2 separate regions of the Homo sapiens genome follow, and region 1 is reported to be linked to region 2. Evidence: microRNA targets listed by miRTarBase, many of them from high-throughput screens and not tested one by one. Region 2 holds a microRNA gene; the other region holds the end of a gene's coding sequence. Distances are from middle to middle.
The links. Region 2 holds the annotated microRNA hsa-miR-548f-3p (AAAAACUGUAAUUACUUUU, at 1,736-1,754, opposite strand). A microRNA usually pairs through its seed, bases 2 to 8, with sites in the 3' UTR of a target mRNA and lowers its output. Matches are read on the target gene's strand: a 7mer-m8 pairs with bases 2 to 8, a 7mer-A1 pairs with bases 2 to 7 and ends in A, and an 8mer does both.

Region 1 (5,402 bases), 130 Mb from region 2:
TAAGTAATCACAATACTTCTCTCCACTGTGCCCAAGTATAGGTTTTATATCCTTAGCAGCCACTATAATTGCTAACAACTAGGAGAAGAAGAGGAAATCTATTTAAGACTTCTGGTTTCATAATCAAATATATATATATATGGTTATATATATATGTTTATACATGTAATTTTATATATATATGTGAGTACTATAAAATATATATATTTACATACATAGGTATATATGTGTATATATATATATATTTAGAGAATATAGATCTGGACTTCAAATTATATCTTTATATAATATAAACCATCACAACGTTATATTCTGAGAATGTTACATTTAGTGATTCAATTGTGACTGAGTTTGAAAAAACATGTATAAACTAAAAAAAAAGAAAATGCCATTAGATTTTAAATCAATAATTTATTTACATTTTGTTTTGTAAAAACAACATATTTAGAATCTTTATAGTACTTTTCAATGTCACCTTAAAAATATGCATATGCTTCTTACAATTTTGAAACTGAAATTAATAAGAACATATATAAATGCAACTATAATGCCAACCACCACCTACACAGCTACTTCTAGTCCACTGATTTTAAGCCATACTAACAAATCCTATATCAATTAAAATGCTTCATTATTCTGTTTTCAAATTAAACTTTCTAAATAACTTCTATCTTTCTTCTTGCATATGGTTGACATTTTAATTAAGATGTTAGATTTATGCCTCTGTGAATTTGTAGTTTCAACATTAAAACAAAGTCAAATTTACAGATTTTAAGACATTCTGTAATTTGATTTTTATAAGATGATCACTGTATTTACATAAAGTTGAGTTATAAGTTAGGGAAGAAAAAATTTCTGTTAAATTAATGTAAAATACTTACAATAATAACCATAACAATGACTCTGAGAGAATATAGGGAGCTGACTCTTACCTGTAAATGAGTATACTTGCAACAAGTCATCTCAAATTGAGCACTTTTATGAAAAAAAATAGGACCTCTACCAAAATGTCATTAATCAAACCATTACTCACGCTATGATGAACTCCTAAGACGACTAACTTTAATTTGCATTTAACTAACTAGCGTAAGTTTAGAAAGAAAACCATTTTGCAACAAAATTTCCCACAAGTGGAAGCATTTTCAGAAACCTTGAAGCATAATCACTATTATTTTTTAAGAGATTTTGGAAAATAAAGTGAGAATAGACAGCTTTTACTAAAGTAAATTTACAGAAGCAGTGATGAAAATGTAACTGTAAAGTTACCTCTGGATCTCTCTTTTTTTTTTTTTTTTTTTTTTTGAGACGGAGTCTTGCTCTGTTGCCCAGGCTGGAGTGCAGTGGCGCTATGTCGGCTCACTGCAAGCTCCGCCTCCCAGGTTGACGCCATTCTCCTGCCTAAGCCTCCTGAGTAGCTGGGACTACAGGCGCCCGCCACGATGCCTGGCTATTTTTTTTGTATTTTTACTAGAGACGGGGTTTCACCGCATTAGCCAGGATGGTCTGGATCTCCTGACCTCGTAATCTGCCTGCCTCGGCCTCCCAAAGTGCTGGGATTTCAGGCGTGAGCCATCGCGCCCGGCCAGATCTCTTAAACAACAAAATAATTTCTCTTTTGGCCAATACTTCTATTCATTCCCTTAACTTTAGCTACAATTTCTTTATGCTGGGAAGGTGGCTGGAAAGCCAAAAGCTCCAGGACTTTCACCTAGTCCCTGGACATAAGTGTCCCACCCTTCTTGTCCATTTCGCCAATGTTCATTCAGTGCCTCTGGCTTATATATCACGTCTTATATATCAGACGTGGCTTATATATCAGATGTCTTTGCCAGGGGTCATTGTTAGACAGGAATATAAGCTTAACACTTATTATCAGTCTTCCTTATTTTAAGCCCAAACTTTTGTTACTATTCAGTCACATGATTTTGGCAAGGTAACTAAGATCCCTGAGCTCCAATTTCCTCATGAAAATAGTGAAGGATGTGCAGATATATATACATATAAAATACATATACATAAAACATAAAAATACATATATACGTACGTATATACATATATGTGTGTATATACGTACGTATATACATATATGTGTGTATGCGTACGTATATACATATATGTGTGTATGCGTACGTATATACATATATGTGTGTATGCGTACGTATATACATATATGTGTGTATGCGTACGTATATAAATATATGTGTGTATGCGTACGTATATACATACATACATGCATGTACATATATACGTATATATGTATGTACATAATGTGTATATATGTACGTACATACATATATGTGTATATATGTACGTGCATACATATATGTGTATATATGTACGTACATATATACGGGTATATATGTACGTACATACATAGATATGGGTATATATGTACGTACATACATATATATGTATATACATGTAAGTATATACATATATATGGGTATACATGCATGTATATACATATATATGGGTATACATACATGTATATGTATGTATGTATTTTTTTTTCCCAATGCTGTGAATTGCTTTGCCTGCTATGAAGGACCAAATGCTATTTTTTCCAGGCACAACTTAATATTTTATTAACTAAATTATACTAAATGTTACCAGTTGCCTAGGGTAATGTCATAGTAAGTACTCTGAGATAAATTCTTGTCTGCTGTAGGATTCCTTAAGCTGAAGTCTATGTTAACTCAGCCAGCACTCCAGCGATCAGGGTGATTTTGCTGTGCCACAAATATGCCCAGTTTACTGCATTCTTCTTCAAGGCACTTACCCTCTCTTTAAAGCCTTGATAACATTTCCCCTTCTTCCTTTATGAGCACTTTCAAAGTCTTAAACATTTTCACCTGATGACTTCAACAGGTGCATGTTGGGGACTTGGCAGCTGTGGTTTTCGTCACACACACAGCCGACATCTGAACAAAGGCACAGACATTCCTAACCACAATCCACACATTGCTTACCTATTTCCATCCTCAAAAACTTAAATTAATGGATTTTAAATTTCTTAATATTCCTAGAGAGAGAAAAAGGGCAGGCCCAGGAATTTAGATACAAGCCTACATTCAAATAACACATTTCAATTAGGAGAATGTAAAATATAAACTCTCCTACTATATATATACTTGAACACTAGAGGGAAAATCACCCAACATGTTAAATAAAAATTCCACAAGGTAGATATTGTATAGTGTATCTTTAACTGAAAACACTTCATGCAACTTTTATAGTTTCCACGTGCAGCCTAAGCCCTAATCTGTTTCAATAAAATAAATGTATGTTGGCTGGGTATGGTGGCTCACACCTATAATCCCAGCATTTTGGGAGGCCGAGGCAGGCAGATCACTTGAGGTCAGGAGTTCAAGACCAGCCTGGCCTACATGGCGAAAACCCTTCTCTACTAAAAATACAAAAAAAAAAAAAAAAAAAAAAAATTAGCCAGGTGTGGTGGCAGGTGCCTGTAATCCCAGCTACTCGGGAGGCTGAGGGAGGATAATTGCTTAAACCCAGGAGGCAGAGGTTGCAGTCAGCTGAGATTGTGCCACTGCACTCCAGCCTGACAGAGGGCGACTGCATTTCAAAACAATAAAAAATAAAATAAATAGAGTAAGTGTATGTATAGATTAAAAGTCACCTCTAATGAATTAAAGGACACCCATAATTATAACATGCAAGGGAAAATATTAATATTTCAGATGTATATACCAATGAAAACTGGAAATAAGAACTTGATTTTAAAAGGTAGCAGTATCTGAATTGAAATAACTAATTTAACTCTATGATGTACAATAGATTCTCTACCTTATAGAAGATAACTAACCAGGGATTGACCAGAATCACCTACGAAACTTTCCAGACACTTTTAAGTTCATTCAGAAAAACTAGAGACCCTTTAAAATAATGTAAGTCATAATTATAGTTCATAAACCAAAAATAACATACAATTTAAAAACAGAAAAGAAGGAAATGACATCTGTTTTAGGGATCTTGAGTAATATGTGGCAAATGGGGAAAATGCTAGAAACAAACAGTTCCGTTCCCTGGTATCCCACTCACCCTTTTTTATTAAAGTGTAGACATTTTTAACACAAGACAAAAAGACAAAATATCACCTGGTGACAGGACAATTATAGAAGTGAGAATAATTCTGAAGTTTATCCATTAGCTTCATAATAGTGTAAATTATTAATTAACAGTTAGGATAATAACTGAAGTTTTCTAAATTCTCATTCCTTGAAAGAATAGCTCACCCCATCATTATTTCTATTTGACCGTTCATGTCTCTGTGGAAAGATTCATTTGAAGGCTATTATTTTCCACTTATCTACTATTTTTTTCTGGTTCAGGCAATTAATATTTGTCATACACAAAAGTATTCTTTATTTCACAGATATAAACATTAATCTGCTTTATAATCTAAGCATCACATCCTACAAATTATAGAGAAGATATAAAAGACAACTGAAACATTCTACCACACACAGCAGCGGGGGCACAAAGCACAATTAAGATACGCAAATAGATGTTTTAGAAAATAGGTAATTTTTTGTGTTCTTCATGCTATCAGAAGCTGACCAATGAGTCCAGAATTTCTTTCCTTGATTAATGAAGCAATAATGATAGCACCTTGCCTTAAACTCTCCTGTAGCTTCTGATCATCCTGAAAAGAAAGGATAAACCAGTAATATTTTAGAAAAAACATATGCCATGTGTTAAGTTTGATAAAAAGCCACTTTTCAAGATCTGCTGCGGTCTGGATTTGGCATTTTAGAAACTCAGACTCTAGCCACTGTCATGGACACGGTTCCCCGAATAAAGAGGAAATACTTTCACAAACACTTTTCATTATAGACCAAAAAATATTTGCTTAAGATGCAAGGAAAAACACTGACACAATTTCAAATGCTAACAGAAAGAAAAGATTATTTCCCCTTAATCCAATTTCTGACAACCTTTGGCTCTTCACTGAAGTGTGAATATTTCATCAATGATGCAATCCTTTTCTTCATCTTGTTTCTGAGTGTTCTCCAACTTTGTTATGAACTGTTTGTGAGTACCGGTATAGGGGGGAAAACCCTGCTTGCTGTTTGTAAAGTAAGAATCGGGAAAATTCAAGAAATGAGTTATTTTACAAGTTGCTAAAAAGTGGTTTTGCCTTTGAAATCATATTGCCTGTAAGAATCCATTTATTCTAATTATTTATGAGAAGATTATAATGTGAAGGGAAAATAGAAACAGAGCTAATATCTTTCAGGTCTCTGTGTTGTGAATTGTGCTATCTTTTAAAAGAGGGATGTGGTAACCAATCTCTAAACTCCAGAATCATCCTTAATGCCTTATCCCAATATCCAATATATTACTAGGACCTATTGTAGCTCCTTCCTATTGTTTCTTGC
Region 2 (5,402 bases):
TGTGACAGGAGACTATCATACAACTTATGCCCTGGGTGCTACTGAAGCACTGAGGGGAGGGACCTAGCATTTGGAGTAAGAAACAGTCATCAGGGAAGGTTTCATCGAGGAAGTAGGGTTCATATGTTTTGAAAATGTTATCTATTTGAACACTCTGTTATCAGGTACAGACATATTTAGAATTTTTCTAACTTGTAGTGAATTTTACCTTTTTTCATTGTATACTAACCTTCCTTATCTCTCAGAGCGCCTTTTTCCTTGTGTTGTCTTAAAATATTTTTTGACACCTCATTTTTCTCAGTATCAGTGAGTTCTCTGTGCTTCAGAGTGTTATTCTATGCTCAATAATTTCACGTGTATTTACTCAGTTCATCCTCATAATAATACTATGAGATACAAACCATTATTTCCTCTATTTTAGAGGTAAGAAAAAACATGATGCACAATAACTTAATAACACAACTGGGGCAATAAATAGGATCAAATTCAGACACCAGCACCTTGAAGCCTGAACCTCTCCACACAGTAACACTACTGTATATTACAAATGATCTCAATACGTTTATACTATAGCACTAAGATTGGTATATGATTGTAACCATACTAATTTTCTTTTTCTTAAAAAAGTTGTATTTGCCTTAGTTACCTTTCTCAATTCTTTTACTTTCAAATTTTCTTAGTTCCTGTGTGTTAGACATGCTTCTCAGAAATAGTATTTTGCTAGATTTAAGAAAAAATCAATAGTTCTGTCTTTTCAGTATAGTATTTCTTAATATATTTCTACCATCTTATTTTGCTTTTTCTTTTTGATTTTCCTTTATTCCTTCTTCTCCCCCCCCTTTTGGTTGATCAAATATTTTTAAAATATCGATTTCCCCTACAATTGCTTTGAAATGTATGTATGTCATATCTAGTATTTTAGGGATTATCCTTATTTTTTTTCAAAAATACTTATTAAATTCCAACATAGCTTAAGATCTTGATCTTTCTCCTGAACATAATCCTAATCACAGTATTTGAAACTTACTTCTAATCACACCCTATCATGCTATAGTCTACTTTTTGTCCTGAGTTTTAGTTCTCTTTTTTAACTTTAATATTAGTCATTATCACTTTTATAATTTTAGTTTATGTAGTCAATATAGTTTTAGATTTTACCACATTTGCATATTTCTTCTGTTATTATGTCATCTTGTATTTCTCTCTTTTCTGGACATAGTTCCATTCTTTGACACACATCCTTTAGTTTAGATGGCTTTTAATGGGAATGTGTTGGTACTAAGGTGCTTCTATTTTTACATTTTTAATTTAAAATTTTTTCATTTTTTGTTTTTCTGAAAATATCTTAATTTTACCATCTTCCCTGTTTATTTAGCTTGGTATACAAGTCTATGTTGAAAGTTTAGTTTCTCTCAGTACTTTGAGTATATTATCCTACTAAATTCTACCTTTTGTTTTCACTTTTCTTAAGAAGCTTCCTGACTGTTTTAAAATTGTTCCTTAGGGATACTCTCTCTTTTCTCCCTTGCTACTTTTATGTTCCGTGGTAATGTGCTGTTATAGCATGCTGTGTTTAGTGCTAGATTACCTTTATAAAAATGTTTAATTGGGATGTATTGTCCTTTCTGAATCTGAATTTTTAAATGTTCTGGAAAATTCTTAGATGTTACGTATTTTAATTGATTCTCCATCATTCTCCCTTTTCTCTCCTCTGAAATTCTATTAATATTGTTCCAAAAGTAATTACAGTTTTTGTCATTACTTTTAATGGCAAAAACCACTATTACTTTTGCACCAACCTAATACGTTAGAACTCATTTTTATACTGTATATTGTAGAATTTATATTTAATGTTTCTAAGTTTTTTTAAATTTCTGAATGACATTGTCGATATTCAATCTACCTTTCAGTTTACAAACTCACTCTGTAGCTTTGTCTCATCTGCTTAATGCAACTAATGAGAGGTTTTTTTCTTTAAAAAAATTTAACTTATATTGGTATATAATAGGTCTATATATTTATGGGCTACATAAGAATGTCTAATAATTATATCAGGGTAAATGGGGTATCCATCACCTAAAGAATTCATCGTATACACAACAGAGTACTATTCAGCCATATAAAAGAATGAGATCTTGTCATTTGCAACTACATAGATAGAACTGAAGGACATTATGTTAAGTGAAGTAAACCAGGCACAGAAAGACAAACTATGTGCGTTCTCACTCATTTGTGGGAGCTAAAAATTAAAATAACTGAACTCCTGGAGATAGTTGAATGATGGTTATCAAAGGCTGGGAAGGATAGTGGGTAAGGTGGGAAATGGTGACAGTTAACGGTTACAAAAATACAGTTGGATAGAATGTGTAAGATTTAATGTTTGATAGTACAACAAGGTAACTAAAGCCAACAATATTTTATTTTACATTTAAAAATAACTGAAAGAGTCCAGTTAGAATGTTCATAACTAATGCGTTTTTAATTCCAATAATATATTTTTAATTCCTGGAGTATCCATTTATTTCCTTATCAACAATGACTGGTAATTTTTAAGTATTATTTGATATGGTTTGGCTGTGTTCCCACCCAAATCTCATCTTGAATTGTAGTTCCCATAATCCCTACATGTCGTGGGAGGGACCCAGTGAGAGATAATTGAATCATGGCAGCAGTTCCCCCCATGCTATTCTCACAATAGTGAGTGAGTTCTCACGACATCTGATGGTTATAAGGGACTTTCCCTCACCTTTGCTCTGTACTTCTTGCTGCCTCCATGTGAAGAAGGGTGTGTTTGCTTCCCCTTCCGCCATGATTATAAGTTTCCTGAGGCCTCCCCAGCACTGCAGAACAGTGAGTCAAACCTCTTTCCTTTATAAATTACCAGTCTTGCCTATGTCTGTATTAGCAGTATGAGAACAGCCTATTACAGTATATCTTATTCTTTTCTTGTATATTTAATTCTCATTTTACTTCAAATAATTTATGAATGTTTTATTTCTCAATCCCCAAATTTAGCTGAAATTGAATTCATGGGGGCCAAATATTCCATGCGGTGTTTCTGCTGAATTCTGTTCATTATACTTGTTTTCTTGAGTTTTATATTTTTGGATTGTGAGTTTAAATTTTTCAGGGCTTTGTCATTAGTAATCCTATAATTCCAGAGTGAATCCAGAGAGGGGTTACACTTTATTTCAAAAGATACCAGCTTGGAACCATTTTTTCTATTTTAAGTTCTTGATTTGGGGGTTATATCCAATAGTCAGTGTAAATTCAAAAGCTGTAATTTAATTCAGCAAGTTTATGGCTTATGCATTCTCAAGAATCATCATTTTTTTTGGAAAAAGATAAAATACAGACAAATTTCCTTGTCATCCCTCTTTGCTGACTAGTTAATTTTTCTCCAGTGTCTGCTTTACTGTGAATTTAGCATTTTTAGGTTTTATGTGGTGGGGCTAGGGGCGTGAGGGAGTTCCTATTCTTTGCACAGGTCTATTACTTGATTTCTAATTCTGTTTGGCCTTGAAATCCAAAATTCTGCATTGTAAAGATTAGTAAATACCCTCTGACTACTATAGCCCACCATCAGCTAACACCCTGAATTTCAGTGTTCTCTTTTTTTCTTGATACCCAAAAGCTTCTCCTATTTTACTGGATGCTCAGATATATAACTTAAAAGATGTATGTTACATTTTATTTAGCATTTCTAGGTGTTTGAAACTGGAAAATTTTCAGGCTCCCATGTTGCCTCGTCCTAGGAAATGTAATCCTTAGAGATTATTGTTTCTGTTTCCTATTATGTGATGTGACATTACAGAATGTTAAGTATTTTAAATAAATTATCTTATATCAGAAAATTTATGTTATAAACTTTTGGGGTGCAGTTAATATTTTAGAAATGTTTTCAGATACAAAAAGCCATGTTTTAAAATATCTCAGAATAGACATTATAATCTTGAAAAAAAAACCCTGATTTTTATTGAAGGGTTTTGTTATGAATGAAATTTGGAGGTGCTCTTGTAGCATTCTGCATTTACATTCTAGCATCACGCTTCATCAATAAACATGAAGACATTTGTATAACATGTAAAACCATCTTATTTATACCAAGTGCAGAAAATTGAAAAGCTTCTAAAGATTATATCAAGAGGAATAATAATAATACAAACAATAACAAACACCATAACAACAAAGAAAAGAAGAAGCAGGAGGAAGAATGGCAGTCACAGGCTCCTATTTTAGGCCAAGCACACTCCTAAGCATCAAAGCCAAAAAAAAGGCAGAAAAATGTTAAGGTGACAAAGGCAAGAGCCCACGCTACACAAAGCATTTCTTGGCTCGCCAATTTCAAAGCAACTCCTGAGATAGAGCCTCACAATCTGGCTTTGCTATTGATTTGAAGTTAATATCAAATTAACAGAATACCAAAATATATAGTCATATATAGAAGCATTCCAAAGCTAAATAAAACTGTGTTTGATTTCCTACTAGTTGGGATTGTCCCTATCATCTTAATGCAGATAATTGTGAGTCTAGTTTATATCCATATTTTACTTTTCCATCTGCAATGATACTAATTTTTTTAATAGCAGAGCCATCCCCCATATGAAAGTATTTGGAAAATATATAGACTTTCAAAATGACAATATAGACGAGACTAAGAAATTATTTTCTGGGTTTTTTTTTGTTTTTTAAATAGAGTGAAAAACGAATCTCTCAAATACAAAATATTTTTAAACGTGAGAAACTTGCACGCTACTCCCTCAAAGCTGTCTAATTCAAGCAAACACTAAATGACACTGGCAGAGCTGATTGAGCAGCTGCTGGGTGTCAGTCACTGTACTAGGGGCTTTTAATACAGTGTTTTATTTAACAGTTTACAAAAACCATAGGAATTGGGTATTATTAATTCCTGCCTTACAAATGAAAACACTGGCGTTAAGACAGGATGAGTGAGTTAGTCAGGGTCACACAAATACATCTTAAACCAGTTCTGGCTATTCTGCAGCCCAAGCTTCCAACCACCGGCATTGTATTTTTCAGAATATTGTATAATTTCATAGTAATTAAGCAAATGTTTACACTTATAAGAAAAAATCAGTAAGACAATATTATTTTATGTTATGACTGTATCTGCCGATGTTTTAGATATACTAGCAGTTTGTGGATATAAGGAATTAAAGTTATCTGATGTAAAAATTATTTATTTTATATTTGCATTTTCTCTATTTATCAATACACAACTAGGTCATGAAAAAGACTATGTAAAAAATATATGAAAGTGTCAAATTATTCAGTTTGTTCATCCTTTTATTGTGGCCCCTAGGCAACGATGGCTTTTTAAATCATTTTGTATAATTTGATTTGCAAATTGCTAAGTATCCTAGTTTGTCAACATACTAGTC

Region 1: miRTarBase lists CRPPA as a target of hsa-miR-548f-3p. Seed matches in the 3' UTR shown: 7mer-m8 at 3,717-3,723.

What each region holds. Positions count from the first base shown.
Region 1 is chr7:16,087,134-16,092,535 of GRCh38, forward strand. It overlaps CRPPA (CDP-L-ribitol pyrophosphorylase A), which reads right to left. Exons shown (of 10, transcript NM_001101426.4): 10 at 392-4,666. The coding sequence ends at 4,562. Among named protein-coding and RNA genes, the nearest start is that of CRPPA-AS1, 120 kb to the right of the region's middle. RefSeq lists a silencer at 4,638-4,838.
Region 2 is chr7:147,376,306-147,381,707 of GRCh38, forward strand. MIR548F4 (microRNA 548f-4) reads right to left here and starts at 1,816; the gene lies at 1,712-1,816. The region is part of intron 9 of CNTNAP2 (contactin associated protein 2); the gene reads left to right.